3 separate regions of the Homo sapiens genome follow, and all the other regions are linked to region 1. The links come from fine-mapping of genetic effects on gene expression. A gene starts in region 1. Each other region holds a variant in brackets. All regions are shown on one strand. Distances are between the middles of the regions. Region 1 holds the start of ADAMTS8 (ADAM metallopeptidase with thrombospondin type 1 motif 8). Region 2 overlaps ADAMTS15 (ADAM metallopeptidase with thrombospondin type 1 motif 15). Region 3 overlaps ADAMTS8 (ADAM metallopeptidase with thrombospondin type 1 motif 8).

Evidence for each region.
Region 2: its variant is fine-mapped to the expression of ADAMTS8 in hippocampus (GTEx, PIP above 0.99).
Region 3: its variant is fine-mapped to the expression of ADAMTS8 in testis (GTEx, PIP above 0.99).

What each region holds. Positions count from the first base shown.
Region 1 is chr11:130,423,951-130,432,124 of GRCh38, reverse strand. It overlaps ADAMTS8 (ADAM metallopeptidase with thrombospondin type 1 motif 8), which reads left to right and starts at 3,516. Exons shown (of 9, transcript NM_007037.6): 1 at 3,516-4,558. The coding sequence starts at 3,839.
Region 2 is chr11:130,455,671-130,463,844 of GRCh38, reverse strand. ADAMTS15 (ADAM metallopeptidase with thrombospondin type 1 motif 15) reads right to left here. Exons shown (of 8, transcript NM_139055.4): 2 at 2,224-2,356; 3 at 1,591-1,758; 4 at 1,065-1,348. Among named protein-coding and RNA genes, the nearest start is that of ADAMTS15, 11 kb to the right of the region's middle. The variant G/A (reference allele first, on the strand shown) is at 4,873.
Region 3 is chr11:130,398,211-130,406,384 of GRCh38, reverse strand. It overlaps ADAMTS8 (ADAM metallopeptidase with thrombospondin type 1 motif 8), which reads left to right. Exons shown (of 9, transcript NM_007037.6): 9 at 257-1,462. The coding sequence ends at 827. It overlaps ZBTB44-DT (ZBTB44 divergent transcript), which reads right to left. Exons shown (of 7, transcript NR_148980.1): 6 at 5,298-5,375; 7 at 2,728-3,084. Among named protein-coding and RNA genes, the nearest start is that of ADAMTS8, 26 kb to the left of the region's middle. The variant A/C (reference allele first, on the strand shown) is at 4,602.

The DNA.
Region 1 (8,174 bases):
TCCCAGATTCCAAATTTGAGGAATCCAAATTGATGCTCTTTTACATTCAGGAGTCAGCAAACTTTTCTGCAAAGAGCCAGATAGTAAATATTTTAGGCTTACTCAACCCTTCCCTCGCAGCTCAAGAGCAAAGAATGCGTACATGAATGGCTGTGGCTGCATTCCAATAAACTTTATTTATGGACACAAATTTGAATTTCATACCATTTTCAAGTGTCAAGAAATTTTAATATTCTTTCTAATTTTTTTAATTTACCACTTAAAAATATAAAAACTATTCTTAGCTTGTAGAGTGCAAAAAAACAAGCAGTGTGCAGCAATTAGCCCAAGGGCCGTAGTTTGGCAACCCTGCCGTAATTACATATTTTGGGAAATAAAGTAGTAATGTAAGAAATCCGGAATTGGCAGAATGCCGTTATGGGATTTTCACGGGTTGGTTTGTTGATGTTTGTTTTGCTGCACTGTTTTCACCTGCCACTCCTCTAAGAGCGGCCACTACAAACCACCCACCCTTTCTCGCTCCCTGTGGCAAGGGTCCTGGGTTTAACATAGCCAGGTCCTGGGTTTAACATAGCCAGGTCCTGGGTTTAACATAGCCAGGTCCTGGGTTTAACATAGCCAGGTCCTGGGTTTAACATAGCCAGGTCCTGGGTTTAACATAGCCAAGGTAAGCCTGACACCTTGTGGTTGCATTGCGAACGGCAGGAGCTACCTTGGAAGTTAGCAGCACTGCACATCTGGGGAAGGGGAAATCCAGGAGGGAGCGGGGACTGCGGGGCCAGTCAATGAACCAGTCAGCAGGTGGTGGTGGTGGTGGTGGCGGCGGCGGCGGTGGTGGGTGGTGGGGGTGGTGGGGGTGGTGGTGATGTTGTTGTTGAAATGAGGAAGGATAAAGTCCAGAACTCACTATCTGACTTCTCTCTCCAAAGAGAACTTCCAAAATGCTACCTATGGGGGCACTTCATCCTATTAAAAAAATGAAGCAGCAGTGGCCAGGCTCGGTGGCTCACGCCTGTAATCCCAGTACTTTGGGAGGCCAAGGTGGGAGAATCACCTGACGTCAGGAGTTCAAGACCAGCCTGACCAACATGGTGAAACCCTGTCTCTACTAAAAAAAAAAAAAAACATCAGCCGGGCATGGTGGCAGGAGCCTGTAATCCCAGCTGCTTGGGAGGCTGAGGCAAGAGAATCACTTGAACCCTGGAGGCGGTTTCAGTGAGCTGAGATCTCGCCATTGCACTCCAGCCTGGGTAACAAGAGCGAAACGCCATCTCAAAAAATTAAAAACTAAAATAAAAATGAAGCAGCAACTTCCAGAGCCTTCACAACCAAAGGCTCCATGGACACTCAAGACTTTCCTTGGTTCAGTTAAATCTCCCACTTCTAGCCCTTAGCATTCGGGCGGGAGAAAGGGAAACTGGGCACGCTCCTCACTCCCACTCCTCCCAGATGCTTACACTCGAGAAAGAAGGAAAACCCACAGGACCTAACTGCTACTGAAAATCAGGAGTTAGCTGGCACAGTAGCTCACACCTATAATCCCAGCACTTTGGGAGGTTGAGGCAGGCGGATCACCTGAGGTCAGGAGTTGGAGACCAGCCTGGCCAAAATGGTGAAACCCCATCTCTACTGAAAGTACAAAAGTTAGCCAGGTGTGGTGGTGCCTGCCTGCAGTCTCAGCTACTTGGGAGGCTGAGGCAGGAGAATCTCTTGAACCTGAGAGGGAGAAGTTGCTGTAAGCCAAGATCGCACCATTGCACTCCAGCCTGGGTGACAAAGTGAGACTGTGTCTCAAAAAGAGAAAATCAGGAGTTGTACTCTGGGAAACAGCAAATAAGGGGCTTCAAGGAGGTAAAAACCAGTCATTGAACTGTTACAATAGCCCTGAGGCAACACAGAGTTGTATTCATTGCTTGCCCAGGTCAGACTGTCCCAAGCACTGTACAGGATGTCCCAAGCACTGTACACTGTGCTAGGACGAAGTGTTTTGCTTGTTTTGAGAAAAGGGTTGAAGAGACCATTCTTTCCATTGTCCTTCCTCTAGAAGTGTTTCCCCAAAACATTCTAGACTCGTTATTCCTATCCTATAAATTATGCAGGAAAGGAGGTTCTGCACCATGCTAGGTTGGGAAGTTCATCCTTTCATCTAATTCACAGCTGTCCCTCTGTGTTTCTGAGAAAGCAAAGAGAGGGGGGATACTTAGAGGGAATTTGGCAGCACTTTCCCCTGGGCAAGAGCCTCCTCTTTGGAGGTAACAAGCCCTGAGAGTCTCAGATGCATGCTGAACCACCACACTGCAGGAAGGGGTCAGATGGGCTGAAAAGAATCAGCGATGACCTCGACTGTCAACATCCCCAGCATAAGCACAGAGCTGGGTACCTGGGGGCAGGTGAATTGGCAAAGGATTTAAAGGCCCTGATCCCAGCGGTTCCTAATGCATCACCCACATTGACAACTCAGAGAAAGGCACAGTTGGTGGATGAGTCTAGAGTTTGTAGGTAGAGAACAGGGCCCTCCACCCAATCCAGACCTGTGTCATTGAGACTGGGATGGGATGCAGTTTTGTGGTCTTGAGACCATGTCATCCCTCTCTTCCTGAATACTACCCCCTTCCCTAGGGGGCAGTGGTGACATGGGACAGAATAAATTCACCTCATACACATTTGTTCCTGGGGCTGTGGCAACGCAGTGAAAGGGCCTGCCACCTTACTTGAAGTCCCGGGCAACTAGCAGTATCCAGAAGAGAAGACCTTTTTCAGGGACTGGAGGTCTGTTTCCCTCTTGGGGAAATGCTAACTTCCAACCTCAGTGCTGGTAACTTACCACTGTGCTGGCCTCTGCCCCACCTGCCCTCTAACAGGACAGTGAGAGTCCCTCTTAGGGTTAACCAGGTGGGTTGTTTTTTGTTTTGTTTTTGTTTTCCCCATCTTCAGTTTGGAGTGAAAGTTAGGAAGGCTGTGCAGTAGTGATGAGAGGAGGGCATGATTTTAGCATGACCTTTTCCTCCTCTCCCTTTATGCTTTACAATGAAAAGCTCAGGAACCTTCTCCCCACACAGTCGGATCTCCGGAGGCATCTGCAGGGATCCCAACAGTGTCGGGCTCTGCAGTCGGACTCTGCAGGGATCCGAACAGGGTCGCTGAGACCAGTGCACGAGCCTCTTCGGAAGATGCATCCTGGACTCTTGGCCGCAGAGGAGAAAGCGGTTGGGGTCTCCCAGGGACTCTTTCTAAAGGGTCAGTCCAGCATGGTAGGGGTTAACGTGGGTCCACGCGTAGAGGGAAAGGAAAGAAGTTGTAGTTGACACTTCAGGGGGGCGGGTGGCGGACGGGTCTCGCTGCCTGATTGGTTTTGCATTTCATCCCAATTTTTTTTTCTCCACTCTCTCTCCCTCTTTTCAGTTTCTCTCTCTGATCCCAGGGGAGGGGAAACGGGAATAGTGAGAGATCAAAAATAAACCTCTTATGTCAAGCCGGGAAGGAAGTATAAATAAGAAGGGCTCGGCAGCCCACTCGGTGCTTCCCGGGGTGGGGAGGAGGCAGGAGGCGGCTGCGCGGGGCTGGCGCGGGCAGGGGCGGAGGACGGGCGCACGCGGGCCGGGGCCAGCTGCTCGCGCTCGGCTCGGGGGCGGCGGCGCGGGAGGAGCGGGCTGCGCCAGCCAGAGGGGCCGCCGGGGGAGCGCTCCCGCCGCCGGGCCCCGCGGGCCGAGTCGGCCTTGCACCCGATTGATTCCGCTTTTCCTGGAGAGAGCGGCCGGGCCGCGCTCGGGCCGCCAGCACCTGCCCGCGCCTGGCGGGCTTCTTCCCTCTCCTGCGCGCAGCCACCGCCGCAGCCCCCATGCTCCCCGCCCCCGCCGCCCCCCGGTGGCCTCCGCTCCTGCTGCTGCTGCTGCTGCTGCTGCCGCTGGCCCGCGGCGCCCCGGCCCGGCCCGCAGCCGGGGGGCAGGCCTCGGAGCTGGTGGTGCCCACGCGGTTGCCCGGCAGCGCGGGCGAGCTCGCGCTCCACCTGTCCGCCTTCGGCAAGGGCTTCGTGCTGCGCCTGGCGCCCGACGACAGCTTCCTAGCGCCCGAGTTCAAGATCGAGCGCCTCGGGGGCTCCGGCCGGGCGACCGGGGGCGAGCGGGGGCTGCGCGGCTGCTTCTTCTCCGGCACCGTGAATGGGGAGCCCGAGTCGCTGGCGGCGGTCAGCCTGTGCCGCGGGCTGAGCGGCTCCTTCCTGCTGGACGGCGAGGAGTTCACCATCCAGCCGCAGGGCGCGGGGGGCTCCCTGGCTCAGCCGCACCGCCTGCAGCGCTGGGGTCCCGCCGGAGCCCGCCCCCTCCCGCGAGGACCCGAGTGGGAGGTGGAGACGGGAGAGGGTCAGAGGCAGGAGAGAGGAGACCACCAGGAGGACAGCGAGGAGGAGAGCCAAGAAGAGGAGGCAGAAGGCGCTAGCGAGCCGCCACCGCCCCTGGGGGCCACGAGTAGGACCAAGCGGTTTGTGTCTGAGGCGCGCTTCGTGGAGACGCTGCTGGTGGCCGATGCGTCCATGGCTGCCTTCTACGGGGCCGACCTGCAGGTAGGACTGAGAGCCTCCTCCAGCCGCCGTGCCCGGAGGCCCCCCAGACGCCTCCCAGCGTCTCTAAAATCTCCCCTTCCAATCCCTCTGAGAAAAAAAAAAAAAAAAAAAAAAAGCCCTCCCCACTCATCTTCTCCAGCCTTACCCCAAACGAGATTCTCTCCTGTCTGAGAAAGAGCAGTAACTCTTTTCTGAACTTCTGCCACCCTGGATCCCTGCGCCCCCACCCCCAGGTCCCTTCCAGTTTAGAGTGGGGCTGCCGACGCCCATCCCTCTCATCCGAATCTCCCGCGGCACGTGGCGCACTGACCCGAAAGTGGGTATCAACGCATTCCCCGGCACCTGCCTCTCCCAGCAGAGATGAAAATTGAGCGTTTACGAATAGCTCCCACTCCCACCCCTCAGCCCTCTACTGCCTCCAGATCTGAGAGGCTCCCAGGGAAAGGCAGATGGGATGGAGAGAGATGGCTGTCTGATTCCCTTGGGTATGGAGGTCGCCATAAGCAAAAGACATTGTTTGAAAGGAGCTGAACCTGGAGAGGGGCTGCCCAACTTCTGTGCAGCCAGCTGGTTGTGATCAATGGGGCATGGACTACCTTGCCAACCTGGCGCTCAGCCCCGGCAGAACTTGGCAATGCCAGCAGCCAGCACAAGAGGGAGGGGCAGAGAACTTCTGCCTGGGGGCTCAGCCCAGGAGCTGAAGCTTTGGTGGAAACGCGAGGGGCGCAGGGGCTGGAACGAGCTCTTTGGGTGAATGTCTCTAGTAAAGCCAGACCCACACTTGGTCCACCCAGCTGCCCTTAGCCCAGACACAGCTCTTACCTAAACAGGGGAGAAAAACAGAGTCCAGGGGATGGCTACCTAACCAGACCATTTCTAACTAGATGCAAAGATGGTGCTGACTCAGCAGGAGGTGTCTGTGTTGCCCTAAACCCCAATTTCTCCCCTAAAGACCAGGTGAAGGCTTTTCCAGGAGGAAAAGAGGGTAAGGCTTCCAGAAGAGGGGTGCTCTTTGCCCCTAGGGAGCACAGAACCAGAGATGTGCCAGGGAAGGAAGAACTGACCTGCCCAGACGTCATAGTTCCCTGAAACAGGGATCCTGGCAATGCAGCAGCTAAGCTGACACTTTGTGGTGATGGCATCCTTGGCCGGGACCCAATACTAGGCTCAGTCTGTGCCCGACTGCTGGGGGCCCCAAGGGCATAGGCATTGCCTGTGCAGAATAGTCCAGACAAGGAGGCGATCAGCCTTCTGTTTCTCACCCCATCTTTCCCACCCTCTATCACTGGGAAAGGCAGGGTAGGAAAGACCCAGGGAGAAACAGATGATTAGGATGGGAACTGCTGTGGGTGAGAGTCCACGTGGCTGCCCCTCTGGCTACTGCAGGTGCTGACTACACCCCAGGGACGCACCCCTGCAAGCCCTTGTGGTATTTGCTTCCCCAAAAGCAGGGCAGAGCAGCTTTGGGTCACGCTGATTTAACACCTGTTTCCCTGCCTGTCCTGAGAGCACGGAGCGGTGGGAGCACCAGCCCTCTCCTCTGACTCCTTTCTTTAAGCAAGTACTAGAGAGTGTGGCAGGAGAGGGGTGAGAAGAGGGCTTCTCCCATCTCTTTAGGACCCCCACACCTGGCTCCTAGGGGGCTCCACCAGAAAGAAGCTAAGATGGCCGGGCACGGTGGCTCAAGCCTGTAATCCCAGCACTTTAGGAGGCCGAGGTGGGCAGATCGCAAGCTCAGGAGATCAAGACCATCCTGGCTAACACGGTGAAACCCCGTCTCTACTAAAAATACAAAAAAAATAGCCAGGCGTGGTGGTGGGCGCCTGTAGTCCCAGCTACTCGGGAGGCTGAGGCAGGAGAATGGTGTCAACTCAGGAGGCAGAGCTTGCAGTGAGCGGAGACCGCGCCACTGCACTCCAGCCTGGGTGACAGAGCAAGACTCCATCTTAAAAAAAAAAAAAAAGAAAAAAGAAAAACACAAAAAAAGTAAGAAGCTAAGATGCACCCATTGCAAACCCAGAGCGGGGTGCTACACCCCTCTACCCCCACACATGGAACAGATTCTGACATCTACCTAAGAACCAAAACATAGGAAAGCCAAGAGAACTCCGTGCCAGCAGAGAAAGTCCATTTTTCAGCCTTCAGGGCCAGACTGTCTCACTCTCTCAGCTGATCACCTGGACGCTGGAGATAACTGAGTATTTGCCTCAGGGACATACTCGCATCTCCAGACATCCTAGCTATCTAGAGGCAGACATGCTCTGAGGCCCGACCCCAGGATGCCCGGGCTGCTGAAGCAGGAGACTCTGCTTGGGTTTGCACCCGATTTTGTTCCCTTCAGCTTAAAGTTCAGGTCTGCTGCCCCAGACAATTCGGCTTTCTCTGTGTCAGAGACACCCAGGCATTGCCATCCTCATGAGACTCCTGACCGGGCGATGTGGCTCCTGCTTGCCCCGCTCCCCATCCCCCACAAACACGCATTTCTGGACCTTTCCCAGCTGCACATTGGCACCTGCACACCCAGCCAGCCCACCTGGACCAGGAGAGCGCAGCAAAACAGGCATCGGGCACCTCTGAAGGCTGAGTTCCTCTCCCTAGGGGGTTGACTTCTGAGTCTCACCTGGAAGAAAAGTCTTCCCTCAGGGAGACTAGCCCCGCCACCTCCACCCTGGGTCTCATGTCCCATCCCACCTGTGCTCCTGCTGCCACCGTGGCGGGTGGGGGAGGGACTGAGGTACAGCTGTGTCCAGGACCACCCTCGGGCCCCTGTGCTATGATGAGCTGACCAGCCTTGGAGATGCTGCAGGACAGGCGTGACTGTCTCAGCTCAGTCCCCTGCGCTTCCGAAAACAGATCCATGAGCCCAGCTGAGAGAAGAATGAAAATCAAGTTCCCGTGCCTCAAGACCTTGGCTGCCCACACCCACCTCCTGCAAATGGAAGCCAGTCCTTTATGTGGAGACCTCATTCACACAGAGGGAAGGCACTCTGGGGTGATTACTCTTGGTAATCAGGGGTGTGGAGGATGAGAAGAGCCTTTACCTCTCTAGGGCTTAGAGTTCCTCATCTGTGAAGCAGGACACCTGGACTAGGTGATCAATCCCGGTCTGAGCACCTGTGTGGCTGCTTCATGATGAGCCAGTCTTCTGGAAGGTTTAGCCACTCTCTGAGCGTGTTCAATTCACAGCGTGGTTTTACACACATCACCTCCATGAAAATACCAGTGAGGGGGGCAGAGGGAGACTGCACAGCTCACAGAGGACATGTGGCTTCCTCAGGATCAGACAGCACCGATCAGGATCAGTAAGTGGCAGGGCTGGGCCTGCAGACCAAGTCTCCCAAAGCTGAATCCTGTGCACTGTTATCCCACCAGGCGGCCTCTTTCTCAGGACTAGGGTCTGTGGCTCTGTCGACCCTCTGATACTTGCTTATGTTGTGGGAGTGGGTCTTTAAATCCAGCAGTTCAAAGCCATCCAGGCCCACTGTGAGGCCCTATCCTGCAAAGAAACCGCCGTGGAGGCTGAGAGAAAGAACGCACCACTGCCAAAGCTGGTCTCACTATGTTACGCGACAATGAAGTTTTCCAGAGCTCTGTCAATTGAGTTCATTTAATCCCA
Region 2 (8,174 bases), 32 kb before region 1:
TATCACAGCTACAATTCGAGCTTCCCCACTTGACTGTGAGCTCTCTGAGGCATGGCCTGTGTTTTATTTCTTTTTCTGACCACCACAGTATCTTACACAGTTCCCTGAACACAGTGGGTTTTTGCCTAGCCAACGGTTGAAGGTTTAATTAGACATGTATCCCCAGAACACAGAAAAACATTTTAAATAATTCTGTGCCATACTCATCTCAGGGCAATTGATAATGTGCTTGGTGGATGCTTTTTTGTGACACTGCCTCTGTGCCCAGAGGCAAGTCGTCCCCGAGCTGAGAACAGGGGATGGGAAGGGACAGTCAGCTCCAGGATCCGGGAGGAGAACAGACCTCTTATTCCTGCCCGGAAAAGTACAAATCCCTCTCCTACCCCCAAAACCCCCAAAACAAGACCTGAACAAGATAAAGTTATTATATACAGAGAATATTTGGCATTCTGAATGTGTTCTTGTTTGGTTGCTATTCGTATTTATCAGGAGGGAAAACAAGTATTATTCAACTATGTTCCTGCTAAAGAAAAACAGCAATCGCAACAGAAATGGAAGCTTGATTCAGAATGCAGCCAATTCCCGAAGCTTGCCCAGGGCTTTGCTTCATTGCAGCTCTGAGCCCTGTTCCTGAGCATGGTCCCCAGCTCCCTGGGTGTGGAACACACTGGGAAAGAGTGGATGAGAGAAGGAAGGGATGAGCCAGCGAGTGAGCCGCTCCTGACACTATGTGTTCAGTTTTGAGCCCAGAGCTCCTCCCCAGGTAGGACGAGGCCCGGAGCTCAGGGCTGAGACCCCACGTCCTGTTGAAGGCTTTTCCCCATGTGTCTGAGGCCTCACCAAGTCCTCTGACCTGCCATAGCTTTTCTCTCCGGTCTTAGAGTCAAGAAGGGGATAGGACTATATACAGGGCAGTGAAGGCACAGCTCAGCCATGCAACAGTGCTGGTCCCGTGGCCAGTCTGTGATAGGCACCTTCCTGGTGAAGACCAAGGGCAGACGAGGCCCCCGGGTCTCCATCCCTCCTCCCAGCAGTCCCCGAGCGCAGCTCCAGCACTCACTCACCCTGTGCTTGTTGAGGTTGTGTCTCTCCACGCAGGCCCCTTTGAGGCAGAGCTTGCCCTCGCCACAGCTGGTGCCATCGGCCCAGGGGAAGTGGCGGGTCTGGCACACCATCTGTCCCTTGGCCTTCCCGGTGCACCACAGCTTGGTGCAGTACTGCATGTAAGGACAGGGCTTGGAGCCCACGCCAAAAGCCAGCTCGCACTGCTGGCTCAGGGTGTAGCTGGCGCCCGGCAGATCCTCGGGCAGGGAGATGGGCTTGCTGGGTTGGTCCAGGAGGCAGTCACCTGCAGAGAGCCGAGGGCGTTCGTTAGGATGAGCTGGGAAGATGAGGTTTGGCTAGCCCAGAATCTGAATGGTAAGGGGATAATGAACCAAGGGCAACAGGAATGCACTCATGTCAGAGCCCGGCTCCGAGGGGGCACACACACCTAATGTACAGAGGACGGAGAAGTGAGCACCTCCACCAGGGGCAGCAGCAAAGCCCCCTCCGAGGCGGCCTCATTGCCCTCCCGCCGTCCTGGCTTACCGTGCCCGCTGTCCAGGAAGTCGGTGATGATGGCAGCACTGCAGGCTGACCAGGGGTTGGCACGGTCGATCTGGATGAGGGTCGGGGACATCATGTGGTTGGCTCGGAGCTTCCCAAACACCTCCTCACAGACTTTCACATTGTCATGGGGCATGTTGAACACGTGGCCTGTGGGGTAAGGCAAGAGGACTGAGAGGGCAGGAGGAAGGACATGGGGGTTGGAGGGAGGAATGGGGCAGGGGAACTAGAAAGCCCATGTCAGAGGTTTTCAGGCTGGTCATTGCCAACTATCGACAGACTGCTTTCAAATGTCCTCAAGATCATGTTCTTGTGTTTTCTGTCCCCTCCGTCAGGCTGTGGGCTCCCTGACAACAGAGTGTACCTCCTTGTCGTTAACATGGTGTCCCCACAGTGCCTAAGTGCTGAGACACTCTGCCAAGGGGCTCAAACCACGTCATTGGCCAGCGGGGCTGGGGCAATCGGAAAAAGTACAAAGCTGCTGCTAAGGCTCACTGTGCCCTAAGAAGGGGTCCTAAGGCTTCAGAACACAAGGGGGCAAAGACACACGTCTCCCACCCTCCAGGCTCCCCAGGCAAACCCAGAAGACCCCAGGAGGAGCTTATCCAGCCTTACCCAGCTCGTGGGCAGTGGTGAAGGCTGATGGAAGCCCATCGTCCTCAATGACAGAGCAGCTTCTCTTGGGGTCACACATGGTACCCACATCAGCCATGCCCAGGGTGTCACAGGTGGTGGCTCCACACAGGTCCTGCCGGGTGGGGGAGAAGCAGAAGCCAGCCCGAAGTTAGAGACAGTGACAGAAGGGACCTGAAGGGAAGAAAGGACATCCTATAGGACATTCCAGCTCATCTCATTCCAACCTCACCAGGCCCAGCACCTTCCAGCTGGGCTCTTCTTCCTAGGAGGTTGTGGGGCTGTTCACAGAATCAACCTGGCTGAGGGAGGAAACCCAGGAAGAGCTCTGTGGCTTCACCAAAAACACTCTGCCCAAACCCTATGCAGGGAGGTCCTCTGGGAGGAAATTAGGAGGTACAAAATTAAACTACAAGGGCCACTACTTTATAGAGAGACGGCCCTCCAGACCAGAAAAACAGTGACTCCCATAGCCAAGGGAGGCTCGCTGAGGCAACAGGGAGGAAGCCAGTCCCATTCCCACCCAGAGGCAGCTTCGAGCAGCCTCGGTCTTTGCTGGGCTGCCTTTTGGCCAACCATGAATTAAGTTAAGATTCTCAGCCAGAGGGCTGCTGGCCAAGGACCCACCCATGCCAGTGATCAGGCTGGGAGGAAGCATTGAGGTGGACCCCAGACCCCATCCCGGCACAGTTTCATTGGCTACAGAAGCTCAAGGGGACACACGCTCAGTGGCTGCTAGGAAGAAAGATACATGAAATAGAGAGATGGCCACCTAAGCAGGAAGGTCCCTCGTTTTGTACTGAAGCTTAACTTGGCCACAGAACCTAGGGCCTCCAGCAGAAAACCCTGACAGGAAGTATTCCCAGGGGACGCAGAAAGGCAGGATAGGGCTTCCGGGGTGGATATCTCAAAGAACTTACTGAGCATCGTTGGCCAGAAACACATTCAGATAACTTAAAAGCCCAAAAGTTGGAAATAGGATAAGACATTTGTGTACATTCTGCTCCTCTTAAGAAGACGTGTGTTGGGCCAGGCACGGTGGCCCACACCTGTAATTCCAGCACTTTGGGAGGCCGAGGCAGGTGAATCACCTGAAGTCAGGAGCTCAAGACCAGCCTGGCCAACATGGCGAAACCCCATCTCTACTACAAATACAAAAATCAGCTGAGCATGGTGGCAGGTGCCTGTAATACCAGCTACTAGGGAGGCTGAGGCAGGAGAATCGCTTGAACCTGGGAGGCAGAGGTTGCAGTGAGCCAAGATCACACCATTGCACTCCAGCGTGGGCGACAAGAGCAAAACTCCGTCTCAAAAAAAAAAAAAAAACAGAAGATGTGTGTTGAATCAGTGATGCTGGTTCTCTCATTACATCGCTGCCTTTAATGCATAAGGCATTCTGCATTTCACAGGAAGCTGCTACATGTGTCACCTCATTTAATCCTCACAATAGGCTTATGATGCAGACATATTATTGTATCTATGTGTCAGAGGTGGGAACTAGGCTCATGCCTATAGTTCATCATGGCTATGATGTATTAAATGCTGACACTGTGCATGCACTTTGCACACACAGCCCTATTTAATCCTCACAACATCCCACTGAAATAACGACTATTACTACCACCTTCCACAGGCAAAGAAGCATGTGTCTGCATGCATGTGCACGTATATGCAAGGCCACATGTGCATCTGTGTACATGCTGGCAAGGGGCGAAGGTGGGCAGCAGCACAGCGCAGGGAGCCAGGAGCCAGGGGGCATGGGAGGAAAAGCGGTCAGAGTACAGAAAATCAGCAAAATTTAATCCAAAGCACTCAGAGGTTTACCACCTGAGCAGTCAAACTTGGCTTCCCACGGTCAGATGATAGTCACACCTCCTAATGAGTGAACAGTTATTCCGAGGGTGACCAGCCTGAACCCGGGTGCACCAGAGGCAGTGATGTGTGCCCTGCACACCCAGCCAGGTCTGCCACCTGTGCTTGCTGGAAGCACTACCTCCACTTCTAGGAGCCCCATGGAGGACTTCAAATGCCCTTCTCTTCCCATATTCTTTCGTCTTCAAAGACCCACTCTCCCAGAAAGTTTTCCTTCCCAAGAGCTCTGAAACCTAGAAAACAACCACTGTCAAAACTTGGGAGGGGCCTGGGCGCAGTGGCTCATGCCTGTAATCCCAGCACTTTGGGAGGCCAAGGCAGGCAGATCGCTTAAGTCTAGGAGTTCAAGACCAACCTGGGAAACATGGTGAGACCCTGTCTCTACAAAACATAAACAAAATTAGCCAGGCATGATGGTGCACACCTGTAATCCCAGCTCTGCCTCCCAGGTTCAAGCGATTCTCCTGCCTCAGCCTCCCTAGTAGCTGGTATTACAGGCACCTGCCACCATGCTCAGCTAATTTTTGTATTTGTAGTAGAGATGGGGTTTCGCCATGTTGGCCAGGCTGGTAGGAGGAGGCTGAGGTAGGAGGATCACTTGAGCCTGGGAGGGTAATCTACAGTGACCCGTGATCACGCCACTGCATTCCAGCCTGGGTGACAGAGCAAGACTCTGTCTCAAAAAAAAAAAAAAAAAAAAAAAAAACACTTGGGAGGGGACCTTCACCCGACCAGCAGTTTAGGGAATGTGACAGCTGA[G/A]AAACATGGATCAGCGTGTGAACTGTGGGGAAGGGAGCCAAGATGAGGGCAGGGATGAAGGCTCTTGCAAGGGCATAGTGAAGGATGTAGGTGTAGGACGGGTGTGGTGTAGGACCCAGCAAGGCTGGAGCTCTGGACATTCTAGCCTAGCAGTTGCAGCCTGCGGGGGCAGGCACCTACCCTTGCCTCTGGGCTGCCCTGCACACTCACTGCTCCCTGTGTAAGAGGGAGAGGGCGCAGAAATAAGAATCAAGAAGTCTAGATTCCGGTCCTGGCCCTATCACTAAGTAGATGTGTGACTTTATCCAAGTCCTCTCTCTTCGGGGCCTTGGTTTCCTGCTCTGGGGAAGGGCCAACTTTCAACTAGAGCCTGAATCAACCAGTGCTTTCAGCCTCTGCTCCTTCCCCAGTCCCAGAGCATGCAGCCCCTTCTGGCCCTGTAGGTTATAAAGGGAACCCACAGAATGACATATTTTTAGAACCCCAAGGAACATCTTGTCTACTGACCCAAGTCATGTAGTTGACAGCACTCGCTCTCAGAAAAGTGGAAGTCACCCACGTGGAGATTCAGAGTCCTGTTCCCCGGCCCCGCTCTTCAGAAATGCCTAGACCAGGCAGGATGCAGTGGCTCGGGCCTGTAATCCTAGCACTTCGGGAGGCCAAGGCGGGAGGACGACTTGAGGCCAGGAGGTCAAGACCAGCCTGGGCAGCGTAACAAGACCCCATCTCTACAAAAATTAAAATTTAAAAAAGAAAGAAAGAAACCGCTAGACCAGATTGAATGCTCAGACTGGGATCTAGAGGGCGTCTGGAACTCAGCCACCCCGCAGCCGCCTCTGTGGCTGGGAAGTCCTTACGGCCAAAAGCCTCCTTCCTCCTAGGGAGGGTGGATTTTCTCTGGAGCAAAGACATGCAGCTGCAGGCCCTTCTTGGCCAGAAGCAACCTGTTCTTTCCATCAAGAAGTCCCGGTTTCCCTGGATCAAATGAGAGGAACAAGGAAAGAGCCGGCAAATTTCCTGAGGGTAAGAGTGGCTCTGGAAGCAGCCGTCTTGCAGTAACCAGCGTCTTCACTGTGGGAAGACACAGCTGTATGGGGTCAGAAGCTCTGCCTGTCCTCCTCCCCACCCCGGCAGGGACTCAATGAAGAACCGCTGGGCCTCTGCACTTTGAACGCCTACGAGTGCTTATACAGGGGCCCAGCAGTGCCTCCTTTGTGGCATCAAAAATCTCCACCCTTCTGGAATGAACTCAGAGGCACTAAAACTGCCTTAACCTCTTCAGCCCAAGTGCTTGCCTCCAAAAAACAGAAGCTGTTCTGCCTTCTTCCTCCCAGAAGGTGTAGGTATTCCTAACCCAGCCCCTACCTGCCTCACGATTCCCAGCAATTGGCTGTTTTTCTTTGTAGCTGCAGCCACTTTTCCAGATGATCCTGGAATCATCTTGGCCAGGAACCTTAATCCTCCTGGACTGTTATTTTCTAACTGTCCCTTCTTATAAAATAATTTAGGATTGGAGCCACACCTTAAATAAATAAACAAGGATAACATCTGACAGTAGCTTGTTTACCAGTGTCACTCCATACACACCTCCACCACGATTCCCACCAGCTGCCATCCCTGTGAACCACCTTCCTACCTCTTCTCATTTCCCAGGCATGTACCAAGATGCTCAATGTTTTCCAGCAGTACAAAGACAGAGGGATGCACAAAAATCAAGCACATTAACTTTTTTTTTTTTTTTTGAGACTGAGTCTCGCTCTGTTGCCCAGGCTGGAGTACAGTCGTGTGATCTCGGCTCACTGCAACCTCTGCCTCCCGGGTTCAAGCATCTCGTGCCTCAGCCTCCCGAGCAGCTGGGATTACAGGCATGCGCCACCACGCCTGGCTAATTTTTGCATTTTGAGTAGAGACTGGGTTTCACCGTGTTGGCCAGGCTGCTCTCGAACTCCTGGCCTCAAGTGATCCACCCACCCCAGCCTCCCAAAGTGCTGGGATTACAGGCATGAGCCACCGCACCTGGCCGCACTTTAACATTTTTAATGTGGCAGAAGACATACGCATTCTCATGTAGCGGACTTTGCTTCCATTGAAGTTCTAGGCAGGAGAGCCAGAGCTCATCTCTGCGGCTACATCACAGCATCCAGGTATTATACTCACAGGACTGCAGGGCTGTCTTCTCATGCTGCGGATGAGGAAACTGAGGCTCAGTGACTTGAGATTATGCACCCCAGTCCCCATGGCTATTAAGCAAAGAATGAGGTCCCCAATCCAAAGCTATGTTCTTTGGTCTAAATCATGCAACACTAGTTAGGAGACCATAATTACTGGTGAAAAGCACCCTGCGCTAGTATTACTACTGTACCTTTAACTTGTTTCCCATCCGAATCTCTGCCATGCATCACTGTATTTCCTTGTCCAGCCCAAAATCCATGTCTGTTTGTAATCCCCAAGGATGGGAGGGCCTTGCTTTGCTAGAAGAAATAAAATCTAGCAATTCAGTGCCTTGGCAATGTGACGAAGAATGTTAGTTACTTCTACTGGCAGATTCTATTTCACTGGCATATAAATCCCTCCAGATGTACAAAATGGTAATACTGCAAGAGAGTGAGGTCACCAAAACAATAATAATTACCTCAATGAGGAAGAAGAGGGACCCCAAGCTTGCAAGAAGGCTAAATCTTCTATAAAAAAAAAATCACCCCTTCAAGAGAGAGGGCGCCTACAAGAAGAGCGATAATAGCTAACAGTTACTGACTGGCTACTGTGTGCCAGACTGTCGCGAGAGTTTTATCTGCCTTCATTCATTTAATCCTCACAGCTGTAGGAAGAAGATGCCATTATCAGGCCCCATCGCACAGAAGAGACCCAGAGAAGGTAAGTAACTAGCCCAGGGTCACACAGTAAGCCCAAGGTTAGACAGAGAGGAAGGGCGCAGAGTGAGGATTGAAGTCCAGGCAGCACAGCGGCAGGGTTGAGCTGTCACCATGACTTCCTGCTGCCTCTGGTGCATATCGCCCCAAGAATGGAAGGCCTCGCCCTGTAGCTCAAGCAAGTGCCGGTTGACACTGAGTGGGGAGAGGCCTGGGGAGAGGGAGAGGCAGGATTAAGTGCCGAGAGTGCTCTGAGTGCACCGTCTGCGCCACCTCTCCGGTTGAACGAGCCCCCGGCTCCTTGCCCCACACCTGCATTGACACACTGACCCCGTCCCTGCCCTGCCATGCACCTTGTCTGCTGACTCCAAGGTGGATTAAACACACACCTCTCTGGAGCCCCTCCTTTCTTCAGGGCAAAACCTCATGGCA
Region 3 (8,174 bases), 26 kb after region 1:
CATACCTCAACTCCTCAACCACACTTTTGAAATAGAGTTGCCAGATGAAGCAAACACCCTTGAAAATCCCAATGTACAGACATTTCTGTCTGCCTAAACAGCTAATTTATTGAGAACTTTGAGGCAACTTGCTTAATTACTTGCTTTGTTTTTTTCGTGTCTGCCACCTGGGGTGCCCACTTCAGTCTCCAAGGCATCATCGTGACCTGGGCTGGGCAGCCACTGGTCTAAGGGTGTCCTTCTGTTTCTATCACAGTTATGGCTACAATGACATTGTCACCATCCCAGCTGGTGCCACTAATATTGACGTGAAGCAGCGGAGCCACCCGGGTGTGCAGAACGATGGGAACTACCTGGCGCTGAAGACGGCTGATGGGCAGTACCTGCTCAACGGCAACCTGGCCATCTCTGCCATAGAGCAGGACATCTTGGTGAAGGGGACCATCCTGAAGTACAGCGGCTCCATCGCCACCCTGGAGCGCCTGCAGAGCTTCCGGCCCTTGCCAGAGCCTCTGACAGTGCAGCTCCTGACAGTCCCTGGCGAGGTCTTCCCCCCAAAAGTCAAATACACCTTCTTTGTTCCTAATGACGTGGACTTTAGCATGCAGAGCAGCAAAGAGAGAGCAACCACCAACATCATCCAGCCGCTGCTCCACGCACAGTGGGTGCTGGGGGACTGGTCTGAGTGCTCTAGCACCTGCGGGGCCGGCTGGCAGAGGCGAACTGTAGAGTGCAGGGACCCCTCCGGCCAGGCCTCTGCCACCTGCAACAAGGCTCTGAAACCCGAGGATGCCAAGCCCTGCGAAAGCCAGCTGTGCCCCCTGTGATTCAGGGGGGCAGGGGCCAGTCTTGTGCTCCTGGACATGCGGTACTGAGGTGCAGACAAGGGTCTCCACTGTGGTGACTGGGTCCCTTGGCCATATCAAGGCAGCACGGCCCACCCAGGCCTCCCATTGCCGCAACCCCTCCAGTACTGCACAAATTCCTAAGGGGGAAGAGGAGAGGGTATGGGGCGGCAGACCCTATCATCAACTGTCCAGTGGACTGGACCTTGCTCGGGTTCAAGTAGAGGGCATAGGTTAAAAGGTAAAAGTGCACTTATTGACTCAGACAGGACACTCAGCGTCAGTCTGTTTGCAAAGGACTAGCAAACTTAAATGAAAAAAAAAATTCTATCTGGTTTCCCCGATAAATAATCTACCTCACAGGGGAAAAAATTAGTACAAGAGAGGCGTGGGGCAGGGAGTCAATGGTGAATGTCAAAGCAGGCTCCAAAGCTGGACCCCAAGCTGTCTTCAAGAATGACCACGACTGTCTTCAGTGTTAAAATCCATCACCTAAAGGGCCGCAGCGTCGCAGGGTTTGGAGAGCCACATGTTCTCAGGCTGCCACCTGCAGGGGTGGATCCATTTCAAGTATTTATGCAAATGTGTCTCTGAACTAAAGTGTGATCTTATGCCAATGCAGTGGTCTGGTCTGATTCATTGTTTCTTTGGAAAGGGCAGCAACCTAGAACCCAGGGATGGAGGCTGAAACTAGGTCAGCAGCTGGATCCCTGCCTGCTCTGGGTCCTCACAGGCCTGCAGAATCCAGCTCATTCGGGCAACTTTCATTTGCAGGATCTAGACCAGTGGTTCCCAAGGTTTCATTAGGATCACGTAGAGGGCTGTGAAAATGGATTGTGAGGCTGGGCACAGTGGCTCACACCTGTCATTCCAGCACTTTGGGAGGCTGAGGCAGGAGGATTGCCTGAGCCCAGGAGTTCAAGACCAGCCATGACAATATGGCGAGACCCTGTTTCTATAAAAAATTAAAAAACGAAATCAGTCGGTCATGGTGGTACAGGCCTGTAGTCCCAGCTACTCAGGAGGCTGAGGTGGGAGGGTCACTTGAGCCCAGGAGGTTGAGGCTGCAGTGAGCCATTTTCATGCCACTGCACTCCAGCCTGGATGACACAGTGAGACCCTGTCTCAAAAAAAAAAAAAAAGAAAGAAAGAAAGAAAAGAAAACACAGATTGTGGGGCCCCATCCCCAGAGTTTCTGATCTAATGGTTGGGGTGGCCTGAGAATCTGCATTTCTAACAAGTTCCCAGTGACTGACATGGAGGCTGCTGGTTTGGGAGCCACACTGTGAACACCTGTGCTACAGGAAACGTCCAGCTGGGAGATCACAATTGTTATGCGATGCCTTTGGGCTCATCATTCTTGAGAAAGAATATCCCCTTCCTCTCTGTGAGCTACCCCATCATCCTCTTACATGCTGCCTGCCTCCTTTTAGTTTAGCTGGGGGCACCAGATCCTCAGCCCCTACTCCGCTCCATAGCTCCTCATCTCTCCTGTGGCTCAGAGGAACTCTGGCTCAGTCTTCCACCTGGTCTGGTGCAGAGGGAACTTACTTAGTCCCTGATCACAAATGGGTGACAAGAAACAGACATCAAGAAATGACATTCTAGCAAAAGAAGGAAAATACCCAAATGTGCATCTTGGTTTTTTTCACCACCTGTGCCCCCTTTGTCCTCCCATTCAGATATCTGGCACCATGGGCAGAGAGGATGCTGTAGGGGCACTAGGCAAGGCCATGAGATTCCAGCCCCACTGTTCCCCTTAGCTGCTCTCTACACGATGACAGCTGACTCAGAGTTGGTCACTCCTTCTTGTCTGCCTACTCTTTTCAGCGAGTGGGAGGCTGGGCTTACCTAAGCATAAACAGGCACACACACAGGCATGTTGTTGATGACTAGCAAAACCAGATTGTTTCCCTGCTGTGCACCAGTTTTGTGGAGGCTGATGTATGCTTCCGCAACTCTTCATCGCCTTCCATTTCTCGCTCTCCCCCAAATAAGGCCAAGCGTGTCCCCCTTAACGGCCTAAGCCAGGCCAGCTGTGCCATCCCTGCTGCCTGCATCATTACCAGGCACAGCTTTTGCCCTGGAGTTCAGCTGGCAGCAGAGCTGCTGATGTGCAAAGCAGAATGGAATCCAGCTTGGCTCTCCCGGTTGTGTGGGCTCGGCGAGGCTCTCAGAACGCATACTTGTTTGTGTCTGGAAATTCAACAGCTGCAGCCCAGGGACTCAGAAACCAGATCTGCAGAGGAAGACCACACCATTATCTGCCCCAGCCAACCACGACCACTCTGTGCACCCAGAGAAGGAGAGAAGACTGTATTTCCTCTGCTGAAAGATTGTGTTTTCCAGCTAGTGCTCCTAATGGAAACTGGTACTCTCTTCTAATGGGAGGCCCTGACTTGGCAGGTAATTTGGTCATTAATCTGAATCCTCCAGGCACCTGCCAGAAATACTTCGAAGGTGGTACAGTAGCATAAAGTTAATTTCCAACCTTTCATTTTTAAGATAAGTGAATCTTTATCTGGGGTTTATCCTCTGCCCTTTATTCCTCTATCACAGATCAGAGGGTTTTGTGAATTTACAAAAGTATGCAATATTACTATTCCCAGTCCACTCTAGCAGACCACCCCTCTCCCAGGAACATATTCCAGGGGTGGTAGGACCCATCTCACTAGATCCGCATCTGTTCTCTGATGACATCCACCTGCTTCTACATCCTTTGTGCTTGAACTTTTTAACCAAGTCACCCTCTTAGTGAGGACTCTTCCTCTTTTCTGGTGTCCAAACATGTCACCCTTCCTGTTTTCCTCTGGAGTGTGCTCCGGAGTTGTTTCAAACCACCCCTCCCTCCCCACACCCCCCAAAAAACAAAACTACAAATGACAAGAACAATTGGAAAGTTCTTAAGGGATACTGGCTTTTGCTTTGTCTTGATATTTTCCACTTGTGGTCCAGGGCAGATAAAGAGGGAGGCCTTGTCAGCCCTGCGCTATGGCGTCTGCAGCGTTGAGCAGCTGCGTGTACTGGGCTTTCCTGCGTGGTGCAGACTACCCTGCCCAGGTGCCCCTGGTCCCAGGAGGGGAGGCTCGTGAACCCCGCAGCAATCTCGACTCCGTGTGCTCTGCCCCAGATCACCAGGTCCCTCCAGGAACCTGCAGCATTTCCTTTGCTGTTTGGGAATTCAAAATGGTTTCTCGAAAAATGTGAACAGGAAGGCAGAATTTATCAAAGAGGACTAGATGTAGCACGACCCTTGGATTCCCAGATTTCTGCTGCCACAGACTCATCACTTCTTTTTGCCCCTATGATGAGTTGAAGCTACATTTCGGAACACATGGCCCCAAAAAACAGGAGACGGGGTGAACATCATGAGGACGGTGATGACGTCTTCTATAAGCCTAGGTTACTGGCCCTGAGACGTGTCCTCTGCCCTCCTCCACTCCCACTCTGCCCTGTGTGATGTGGGAGGGAATTCCTCAGGTGAAGACAGGCTCGTCCCTGCCCAGAATTTCCCATCCGTAGCTGCACCGCGGTTAGACACTCAGCTTCCCCAAGCCCCGCATGTGCACCGTCAGTAAGTACCGGGACAGGAAGCAGAGGAAGGGAAGGATGCAGCCGCATTCAGTCCCAGAGAACAGCAGGCCCGGGTTACTCCTCTTTGGTGGCCGGGGCTGAAGGACAGTCTGTCTTATGGGGAAAACTCTCCTCCCCACGTTTTTCTGGGGGCCTCCGCTGAGCTCGCATTGGGAGAGCTGC[A/C]TGTGGAATGTGGGAAAGAAGAAGTCACCCATCTAAGCCAGCGTCTTCATTGGCTCAATGTTGGTGATCACTAATGCGACAAATACTGTGGTTGTATTGACCGTACATATGACAACATTCTAAACAACACAGGAGAACACAACGAGCAACAGTAAAAACTGGAGGGTCCCGCGAACGGAGTGGGTGGGCTGTGACTCCCACACTTTCCCTGCCCCTGGCCAGCCCCTCCTAAGCACCTGTGTGCTTTCCAGGTCAACACTGCAGAATGACCTGGCCAGACGTAACCAATAGGTGTGGTCCTAAACAGCTGGTACCACACTTCCCTGGCTCGTTCTTCTTCAGGTGGGGAGTTTTTCTGACCTTCCACTTTGGAAAGAGCAGGACTTGCTTAAAACTGAGTGCCGGCCAGCCCACACCCCCTGAAATAGATCAAGGGACTCATCACAGCCACTGCTCAAGTACTGGGAAGAGACATGACACCAGTGCACAAGTGCATTCTGAACCGTAATGACAAGCAGAGAGCAAGAAAGCCACCTGTCTCTTTAGAACATACTTTCCCTCAGGCCTGGGGCTCAGTAGAAAGAGACAGGAAGGTTCCGGCTGGCCTTCCAGCCCCCAGAGCTGCCCAGCCCAGCCCTGGCAGATGCGAATCGCCCCAGGAAAGGAGAGAGGAAAGAAGCCTTCCCCAGACCTCACCGTTCCTCATTCCAAACATCTTGTAAGTCCCAGGGGCACTGAGAGAGTTTGTCCGCAGCCAAACACAACTTCCTGTTTCTAAGAAAGGGAAGAAAAAAAATAGTTGAAAGGGTTTTTGGACACTGGAAATTTCAAGTTTCTGTAAACGCGAATGAATCAGACACATGTGGAATGAATTTCTCCGGAAGTAAGAAAAGATGCTGTGAGTTCCTCTTGCTGGACCAGAAAATAGGAAAAGGGTAGCTGCGGGGGAGGTGCGTCAGAGGCTGCAAGGAGAGAAGCCATGTGGACATGGGATGGAAGAGAGGGTCCCATCAGTGACAAGGTTCAACGAGGCTGCCCTGAAGCCACGTTCTGAAGCTGCTCATTACTCAGAACTGCTCCACCTCTGAAGTCCTACATCAAATCTCCTCCTCCTCAACCACAATCTCCCATCTTCCCAGATCTTTCCCATAAATGCATCCTTCCCCATGCCCTGACCGCCTCCGCACGTGTCCTTCCCCCATCCATCTTTCCTGCTCCTCTGTCTTCAGCTTTCCCTGAGCTGCTTGGACTCCACGTTCAGCGCCTCCACCTCAATCTTGCCAGTGTTCTCACTGCCCTTGCCCCACAGACTCTCTGTGCTGCTCAGCAGGCAGAGCCTCACACGGCACCCATTCCCCTCTCCCCACCTCTCACCTCTCACGTCATCCTGCTACAAGCAGATCCACACCCCGGGGGAATCCCAGCCCTGAGCACACTGGTGCCACCATAAAGTTACAGCGTTTGATGGAAACTGTCCAGCAACCCGAGCAGACCCCCTCTCAGCAATACCGATGGTTGTCCACAGAACTATTCTGCGCTTCCCATGCTCCTCCAGCTCATCCCCATGCCACGCTTCGCTGTGAGTGAACAAACTCACCTCCACTGCTAAGTGGAGCCCAGTACCGTATCTCTTATCATGGAAGGGAGAGGGGACACCAGCTCACCATTAACGGGCCACGTATAGACACGAATCTAGAGGAACATTATAACTCTCTCTTATTTTGGATTCAACAGGCATGTTTCAATCTCTGTCAAGTCCATAGGAGAGTGAAGACTCAGAAGATAACTCCTCCCCCTGATTAAATTAATCCTCCAGCTCTCTGAAGGGCACAGTACATCATGAGATTTAAACACCTAGGTCTAAAACAAAAAAAAACAAAGAAAAAGAAAAATACGCCGGGCACAGTGACTCATGCCGGGAATTCCAGCATCTGGGGAGGCTGAGGCAGGCAAATCACTTGAGGCCGAGAGTTTGAGACCAGCCTGGACAACATGGTAAGACCTCGTTTCTATAAAACATATAAAAAACTTAGCCAGGGCTGTTCCAGCTACCCAGGAGGCTGAGGTGGGAGGATCACCTGAGCCCAGGGAGGTCGAGGCTGCAGTGAGCTGTGATCCTACCACTGCACTTCAGCCTGGGTGACAGAGCCAGACCCCTTCTCAAAAGTAAATAAATAAATACACACCCAGGCTCCCTCATGGCCCAGCTTCTCTACCTCATCCTCCTTGTTGGCCCCTCAGTTTCCACCACTGTTTGGAGTCCTGGGTGTGGCCCTGACATGGTCTGTCAGTCCCTCGGTTCTTTCTAGTTTCACTGTTAGATGGAGATGGTTCTTCAGATCCCAAAGGTGGGTGAGGGGAAGGGGGAAAATCTCTCACAGGGACAGGACCAAGGACAGCATACCTAAGAGAGTAGGCTTTGCACAGTACTAACTGTGGCCTCCTGCTAGCCTATCCCTGGTGCATTAGGATGTGAAAAAATGTCTCCCTCTTCTCCATCTGGAGTTACATTACCGAAAGCCTAGCCTACAAATGTGTCAGATCTCAGGAAGCAGGACAGGGTGAGGAAAAAAAAAAAAAACACAAGAAAATGAAATCGTAATTTTAAAAACCCTGTTCGTTTCTTACCACGAATCCTGAAATCTTGCTGGTAGCTACGGATGCGCCTCAATTTACACAGAGTTACATCCCCAATAAACCCATGGTAATATCGTAAGACTAAAATGCGTTTAATATCCCAATAAATCCATTGTAAAGTCAAAAATGTGTAAGTTGAATCGTCCTAAGCCCAGACGCTCCTCCACTTACAATCGGGTTACATTGGGATAAACCCATCGAACAGTCAAACAATTGATTGTAAGCTGAACCATCATAAATTGAAAACCATTGTATATCCATCCTTTTTAAAATCTATCCTTTCTCCTTCTGTTTCTGTTACATGAGAGGTATTTTCCCACTGTCAAAACTAATCCCTTCTCAATACTGCAGCCCTCCACCCTCTCAAGGCGCTCAGCCCCTCCACCATCCCCTCCCTTCCCAAAGACCCAGCCCCTCCCTCTCTGCTGACAGCTCCCCATCGGTGTTCGCAGGTGCTGTGTCTTTTCACTCCCGCATTTCACAGCTATGTCTCTCCACTCTCCCCTCGCTCCCTGAATTCCTGCTGCTCTTCCAAAGCACACAACTTCTCTCTCCAAACATCACATATACTCTTCCCTCTTCCGGAAATGTTCCTTTTCCTCTTTCTTCTCTCCCCACTTTAACATAGTCCTACTTATTCTTCAGGTCACAGATTAAAGGTCACACCCTCAATGAAACCCTCAGGTTAGGTTAAGCACCCTCATGTTGCTGTGCACTTAGCTTTTTTTTTGACAGAGTCTGGTTTTGTTGCCCAGGCTGGAGTGCAGCGGCACGATCTCAGCTCACTGCAACCTCCGCCTCCTGGGTTCAAGTGATCCTCCTGCCTCAGCCTCCTGAGTAGCTGGTATTACAGGCTCCCGCCACCATACCTGACTAATTTTTGTATTTTTAGTACAGATAAGGTTTCACCATGTTGGCCAGGCTGGTCTCAAACTC